Linked DNA regions of Homo sapiens. The protein of the gene in region 1 purifies or fractionates together with the protein of each later gene. This does not show direct contact. Each region holds a gene or a part of one and is shown on either strand. Other genes may lie near its edges. The genes, in order: ZBTB7C and ZBTB7A.

Region 1 (3,814 bases):
TATATGCCTACTCTGCACAGCAACTTTTGTACTCAAAACTGATTGGCGGGTTGACGTGGGGTCAGATCTGCCCACTGCCAGCTTTGGCTAGGCCTCACTTTTGGAAAATACGGCCCATTGGTGCTATCTCTGGTTCCTGGTGTGAGGCTGATCTTTTCAGCCATGTCCACAGGTGGGGAGGGCTCTGGTGGGTGGCCTGGCATCAGGGTTTGGTCATTTCAGTGTATCCTGTGTGTACAGAGCCTGGCGATGCCTGCCCTGTGAACATGACTTACTAGACTAGGTCCCTTCCCCACCCTGCCACTGTCCCTCTCAGAGAACTCACCTTGAGAGACCCACACTTGTTCCGGTGGCGGTGCTGCTGCCCCACTTCCTCTTGGAGATGTATCTTTGGGAATTGGTGGCAGCTCATTCTTTTGATTTTCCTCAGTGGGCCCAAAGCTTTGGCCCAAGGACACAGTGCAAGGTTGTGAATGAGACTGGATATCAAATCAGGGACTATGCTTTTCCAGGAAAAAAAAAAAAAAAAAAGATGAGTCCTCTAAAGTCATGAGACCTGTTCTTCTGGGTTGCTTGGAAACTACTGGAAGTTGCCAGAGAAGAGTTTCAGAAATCCATTCAGGTGACACTGGTGTGGCTGAAATAGCTCTGCAGGCTCCTCAGGGGACTGTTTTGAAGGAAACACTGATTATTTCCAAGGTGGCCTTGGGGTCCTGCTCACAGCTGCTTCTGTGAGGGGAACCCCAGACAGCATCTGTCCCAGGTGCTTCCAGTGACAGTAGAGGGAGAATCTGCAGGAGCAGAGGGGAAGGGCCTCACAGACCCAGGATGTGTTCCCTTGCCCTTAGCAGTGAGCTAGGCCAGCCACCCGGCAATGCTGACAGCAGGGCGCCCTGCTCCTGTTACTCCCCAGAGCAGATGGACCCAAGGTTCCTGAGATTCACCTCCCCTTGGATGTCCCTCAGTGACAGCCCTGCCACCCCAATGCCACCGTGGGTGATGCTGCCCCCTACCTCCTCCTGAATTCACCTTAGCCCCACAGAACCAGGCAGAACACCTGAACAAGGCTTGGCAAAAGCACAGGAATACCGAGGGAGATAAGCCAGAGCACCGTGTGAAAGCCAGATTCAAGTACAGCTCACCCATCTTCACGGGGGGCCTGGCTTCAGCCCGAGAGTCCCAGCCCCTGCATATGACTTTAAGGATGCCAGGAAGCTCTTCACAGGCCAGATCAGGAAAGCCAGCCATGTTATCAGCCTGGAGCGCCCTCTCCTGCCAACGCAGGCTCTGCCTCCCTAACTGCCCATGCCTGCCCCCTTGGCAGATGGCTAACAGGAGCACCTCTCCCTTCAGGGGAGACCGAGGCTGGTGACTCCAATTCCAAAAGGATCTATCTGTGTCTCAGGATATCGCACGGTGGCCCTGCTGGCACCCTGAGACCCCATCTCCCTTCTTCCCCACTCCCTTTCCTCTGGGCCTTCCCCACGCACAGCCTTCTGTGAGGTCCACGCCAGGTCTGGACAGTCTGTGCACCCTGTTTTAAGGGAAGGTTTTAACCGTGCGTAGTCACTGCAGACAGACTTCTCACCCTCTGGACCCTGGGACATTCTCTGGGAGTGGGCGTCCTGGTTTGGGCAGCAGTGCTGTGTTGTATAGGAGGGTGACATTCCAGGTTCCTCCCTCCCAGCACATTCCTGATGGTCACTTGGGGTGGCCTCTCTGTCTGCAGTCCCCACTCCCAGCCAGATGATAGGCAGTGGGGCAGCTCTGGTCATCCAGCCATCTGGCCTTGGGTTCCTCCTGCTCCAGAATGACGGCCATCTGGCCCCAGGCCTGTCTCCAGCTGAAGCTGCTGCATTGCAGCCCCCTCAGCACCCCCACCACTTGTTCCCACTGGTCTCTGACCCTCCCGAAAAAGATCAGACAAGCTCTTGGGTCCTTCTCTTCCCAGGAGGAGAGAAACCCCGAGCTGGGGAAAGGCAGGGTGGAGGAGATGGCTCCAGCCTGCCTCCCTTCAGAGGCTTTATTGCTCACTGTGGGCTGTGGCTGTCCTTGTGGGACACTCCCCACTCTCCTCCCCCTCACATTCTTCAGAATCACTGGGCCTTTGCTTCTCACCCCATCTCTGGAACTGCCCGGCAAGGATTCTTTTCCGTGCTTGAAGAGCCCCAAGCGTGGTCTGTCCAGGTTGAGGTTTTCCTGTAATTCTCCCTGTGGCCAAGGCTCCCTGCAGCCTTTCCACGGGGACCTTATTTTTGGCTGAATTCCCCAACGCGATTCCTAACACCTGCCCCTTCCACCTGGAAGCTCTTCAGCAGCCACTTAGAGCAGAGACGGCTGCCTCGTTGACGCAGAATTCCCAGACTCCCTTCCAAGGCCACGCCACTTCCTGAGACTGGGCCCTGTCATGTCACTCTTGTCCCCGCAGCAAGGACCCAGACATGCTGCCCTCAGGTCCTTCTCTCGGACATGATTTCCATTTCCCCTTCTGGAACCCGAGTCTTTCCTTCATCACAGCTGAGCTTCTGCCCTGGCAAAGCCCCATTTCCTCCCTCCTTGATGTTGGGAAGAGCTCAGGGTCTTGTGACACCCTCCCCGCCCCACCCCATGGGGTGCTGGAGAGGCCTGCCCTTCCCCTGCATGGTAGCCCTTCAGCCCAGGCTCTGAGTCACAGCCTCCCAGATGCCAGCTCCCAGAATGTCCACACCCCACGGGGACGTACTAATGACCTCAGCAGCCACAACCCAGGGGGAGGACATGGGAATCCTTCCAGCAGAGCCCCTTCACCCCTAAGGCCCTGCCTGCTGCTGTCATTCTGTGGGTCTAGAGAGGAGGGACAGAGGCCGCCCCACAATGGTATTGTCTGTTCTTTGGTGTCAGGAACCTCACCTCTGAGGCAGCTCTAGATTCCAGCCAGTCCTACCAGGTGTCCCACCACTGATCTGTTCCAAATATGAAATCTCCCTAGGCAGGGCCTCAACGGCATCAACCAAACTATTTCTTTGGCCCCATGCTGTCCCTTCCTAGCTCTGGTCACCCCATAGCCACTTGGGCTCCCTTTGCCTGTGCACTCCCTCGGTTTAGTTCAAAGACACCGTTTTCCTCCTGGGAAAGGCTTGTGCCTGTGCTGGCCACAGAGGCAGCTCCTGTCCCTTTCAGGTCTGACTTGGGACACAGAAACAGCTCCAGGTCATAGGGCAGAGGCAGTCTGGACCAAGATTACCTTAGATCCTCTTCATCAGGAATCCTTTCCCTTCTCTTCCCAGAAAGTCTGGAAGCCAGGAGCCAAAGGTTAGGATGGCAGGCTTCGGCCAGAGGTGATGCCTAGGAAGGGCCTAGAAGAACAGGGAGCATGTGATCTCAGGAAGATAAAGCATTTGTCTTCATGCACAGGGACACTGCTATGCTTGGTGGGTATTTTCCCTGCCCACGGACATCCCAGGTCCAGGTGGCCCCCGCACACCTTTTTGCCCCATCTGCAGCCATCACTGCCAACTGGGCCTGGCCCTGGGCCCTGTGAAAGCCTGTGCATCTTCCGCCTCTTAATTCCCACCACATGGGTCCTTGATTGCAGGCCATAGAGACTTGCCCCTTGCCTCCCCCAGCCCTTCTGTTAGTAGCTCCTAGAGAGCATGGCTGGCTGGTCTCCCTCCTGGAGCCCCTGCATCCTGTCACAGCCTGGCTCCCAGAGATGCCCCAGCCATGCCTGATGGGGACAGTAGTGAAGGCAAGAAACTGCAAAATGAAAACAGACTGGCCCAGAGACAGCAGAGGTCCCATAGAGCACACCGTCCTGGGTGGGGATGGACGACCT
Region 2 (3,814 bases), on another chromosome or scaffold:
TCACCACAACCTTCGCCTCCCGGGTTCAAGCGATTCTTCTGCCTCAGCGTCCTGAGTAGCTGGGATTACAGGCACGCGCCACCACGCCTGGCTGATTTTTTTTTTTAAGACGGAGTCTCGCTCTGTGGCCCAGGCAGGAGTGCAGTGGTGCAATCTCGGCTCACTGCAACCTCCACCCCCCAGGTTCAAGCGATTCTCCCGCCTCAGCCTCCCGAGTAGCTGGGATTACAGGCACGTGCCATCACGCCCATCTATTTTTGTATTTTTAGTAGAGACAGAGTTTCACTGTGTCAGCCAGGATGGTCTCGATCTCCTGACCTGGTGATCTGCCCGCCTCGGCCTCCCAAAGTGCTGGGATTACAGGTGTGAGCCACCACACCCAGCCTAATTTTTGTATTTTTAGTAGAGACAGGGTTTCACCATGTTGGCCAGGCTGGTCGCTGGTCTTGAACTCCTGACCTCAAGTGATCTGCCCACCTCAGCCTCCCCAAAATGCTAGAATTACAGGCGTGAGCACCGAGCCGGGCCTCAAAGTGCCCTTTCAACAGGCATTCCCGGGGGCCCTCCTCGGAGGGGTGGTGCCAGTGTGCTTGTGAAATTTAAGCGTCCAGTGTGGGTTTTGCCAGCCTCATCTCACGCTGATGAGACAGAACAGGGCATCTGACTGCTCTTGGGCACAGCTAGGGAAACTGAGGCTGATGGGGGGCAGGAAACCTGACTGTCCTCATGCACAGCTGGGGAAATTGAGGCTGGGGGCAGGACAGCTGGCCGCCCTTGTGTACAGATGGGAAACAGGTTGGGAGTGGGACACCTGATTGCCTTCCTGTACAGCTGGGGAAACTGAGGCTGGGGACATGACGTCTGATTGCTTTTGTGTACAGCTGGGGAAACAGGCTGGGGGAGGCAGGACATCTGACCATTCTCATGCACAGCTGGGGAAACTGAGGCTAGAGGATAGGACATTTGACTGCACTTGGGAACAGCTGGGGAAACTGAGGCTGGGGAGCCGGGACATCTGGCTATCCTCATGCACAGATGGAAAACAGTCTTGGCCGGGTGCCGTGGTTCATGCCTGTAATCTTAGCACCTTGGGAGGCAGGGGCGGTTGGATCATTTGAGGCCAGGGTTTTTTGATTTGTTTTGTTTTTTTGAGATGGAGTCTTGCTCTGTTGCCCAGGCTGGAGTGCAGTGGCGTGATCTCAGCTCACTGCAAGCTCTGCCTCCTGGGTTCATGCCATTCTCCTGCCTCAGCCTCCCGAGTAGCTGGAACTACAGGCCCCCGCCAACACGCCCGGCTAATTTTTTGTATTTTTTAGTAGAGACGGGGTTTCACTGTGTTAGCCAGGATGGTCTCCATCCCCTGACCTCATGATCTGCCTGTCTCGGCCTCCCAAAGTGCTGGGATTACAGGCGTGAGCCACCGCGCCAGGCCGAGGCCAGGGGTTTGAGACCAGCCTGGCCAACATGGTGATAGCCTGTCTCTGTATTAAAGACACACAAAAAAGAAAAGAGGCTGGAGGCAGGGCATGTATCGCTTTGGTGCACAGCTGGGGAAGCTGGGGCTGGAAAGGCGCGACATCTGACCGCCTTCACGTGCAGGTGGGAATGTGAGGCTGGGGGAGCAGGGTGGAACGCTGCTTCTCAAGGGCCTCGGGCCCTTGTCAGTGGGCACAGGAACCCCCGCACCCCCACTCACGAGCGCCCTCTCCTTCCCCACTGCTGCAGGTCTCGGCGCGGAAGATGGCCGGCGGCGTGGACGGCCCCATCGGGATCCCGTTCCCCGACCACAGCAGCGACATCCTGAGTGGGCTGAACGAGCAGCGGACGCAGGGCCTGCTGTGCGACGTGGTGATCCTGGTGGAGGGCCGCGAGTTCCCCACGCACCGCTCGGTGCTGGCCGCCTGCAGCCAGTACTTCAAGAAGCTGTTCACGTCGGGCGCCGTGGTGGACCAGCAGAACGTGTACGAGATCGACTTCGTCAGCGCCGAGGCGCTCACCGCGCTCATGGACTTCGCCTACACGGCCACGCTCACCGTCAGCACAGCCAACGTGGGTGACATCCTCAGCGCCGCCCGCCTGCTGGAGATCCCCGCCGTGAGCCACGTGTGCGCCGACCTCCTGGACCGGCAGATCCTGGCGGCCGACGCGGGCGCCGACGCCGGGCAGCTGGACCTTGTAGATCAAATTGATCAGCGCAACCTCCTCCGCGCCAAGGAGTACCTCGAGTTCTTCCAGAGCAACCCCATGAACAGCCTGCCCCCCGCGGCCGCCGCCGCCGCTGCCAGCTTCCCGTGGTCCGCCTTTGGGGCGTCCGATGATGACCTGGATGCCACCAAGGAGGCCGTGGCCGCCGCTGTGGCCGCCGTGGCCGCGGGCGACTGCAACGGCTTAGACTTCTATGGGCCGGGCCCCCCGGCCGAGCGGCCCCCGACGGGGGACGGGGACGAGGGCGACAGCAACCCGGGTCTGTGGCCAGAGCGGGATGAGGACGCCCCCACCGGGGGTCTCTTTCCGCCGCCGGTGGCCCCGCCGGCCGCCACGCAGAACGGCCACTACGGCCGCGGCGGAGAGGAGGAGGCCGCCTCGCTGTCGGAGGCGGCCCCCGAGCCGGGCGACTCTCCGGGCTTCCTGTCGGGAGCGGCCGAGGGCGAGGACGGGGACGGGCCCGACGTGGACGGGCTGGCGGCCAGCACGCTGCTGCAGCAGATGATGTCATCGGTGGGCCGGGCGGGGGCCGCGGCGGGGGACAGCGACGAGGAGTCGCGGGCCGACGACAAGGGCGTCATGGACTACTACCTGAAGTACTTCAGCGGCGCCCACGACGGCGACGTCTACCCGGCCTGGTCGCAGAAGGTGGAGAAGAAGATCCGAGCCAAGGCCTTCCAGAAGTGCCCCATCTGCGAGAAGGTCATCCAGGGCGCCGGCAAGCTGCCGCGACACATCCGCACCCACACGGGCGAGAAGCCCTACGAGTGCAACATCTGCAAGGTCCGCTTCACCAGGTGAGCTGCCCGCCGCGGGGGAGGCGCCGTCCTGCTCTCTGCCCCAGCATCCGCCGCTCACGACCCCTCCCGCCTCTCTCCCTGCACCGCACGCACACATGCACGCAGACGCACACATACACGCACGTGCACACAGACACGTACACGCACAGACACATGCACGTCACCTACACATCCACACACACGCAGACACACATACACGCACTTGCACATATATACGCACATGCACACACATGCACAGACGCGTATGCCACGTACACATGCACACACACAGACGCACACACGCACACGCACACCACATACACATACAGACATGCTACACAGACACATGCAGACACAGATGCACACCACATACACATCACATACACATGCACGCACACACACGCACACCGACATGCGCGCACACACACGCACACCACATACACATCACATACACATGCACGCACGCACGCACGCACACACGCACACCCAGGCACGCACACAGATGCACACGCACCCCCAGACATGCATGCAGGCACATGCACACAGACACGTACATGCGCACACATACATGCACATGCATGCAAACATGCACCCACAGACACACATATATGCACACACACGCAAACAGACACACCCCACCTCTTGGGCCCAAAGCCAACGAACGCTTCCCTGACCCACGTGGCTGTTAAGAACAGCCTAGACCAGGCCCTGCCCTTGTGGGTGGACATCCCGGTGGGTGACAGCACAGGCCAGACATAAGATGACAGCCACATCATATGCAAAGCGTGCCGGACAGGGTTGAGCTGCGGGAGGTGGGCGGGAAGGCACAG

Evidence for each region.
Region 2: the proteins of ZBTB7C (region 1) and ZBTB7A purify together in Homo sapiens (affinity purification with mass spectrometry; one large-scale study listed by BioGRID and IntAct). This does not show direct contact.

What each region holds. Positions count from the first base shown.
Region 1 is NC_000018.10:48,035,265-48,039,078, reverse strand, and holds part of ZBTB7C (zinc finger and BTB domain-containing protein 7C), read left to right. Parts: intron 1-3,814. UniProt on the Homo sapiens protein: May be a tumor suppressor gene.
Region 2 is NC_000019.10:4,053,159-4,056,972, reverse strand, and holds part of ZBTB7A (zinc finger and BTB domain-containing protein 7A), read left to right. Parts: intron 1-1,451; exon of another isoform or gene 1,452-1,464; coding exon of another isoform or gene 1,465-1,599; intron 1,600-1,725; coding exon of another isoform or gene 1,726-1,740; coding exon 1,741-3,002; intron 3,003-3,814. UniProt on the Homo sapiens protein: Transcription factor that represses the transcription of a wide range of genes involved in cell proliferation and differentiation.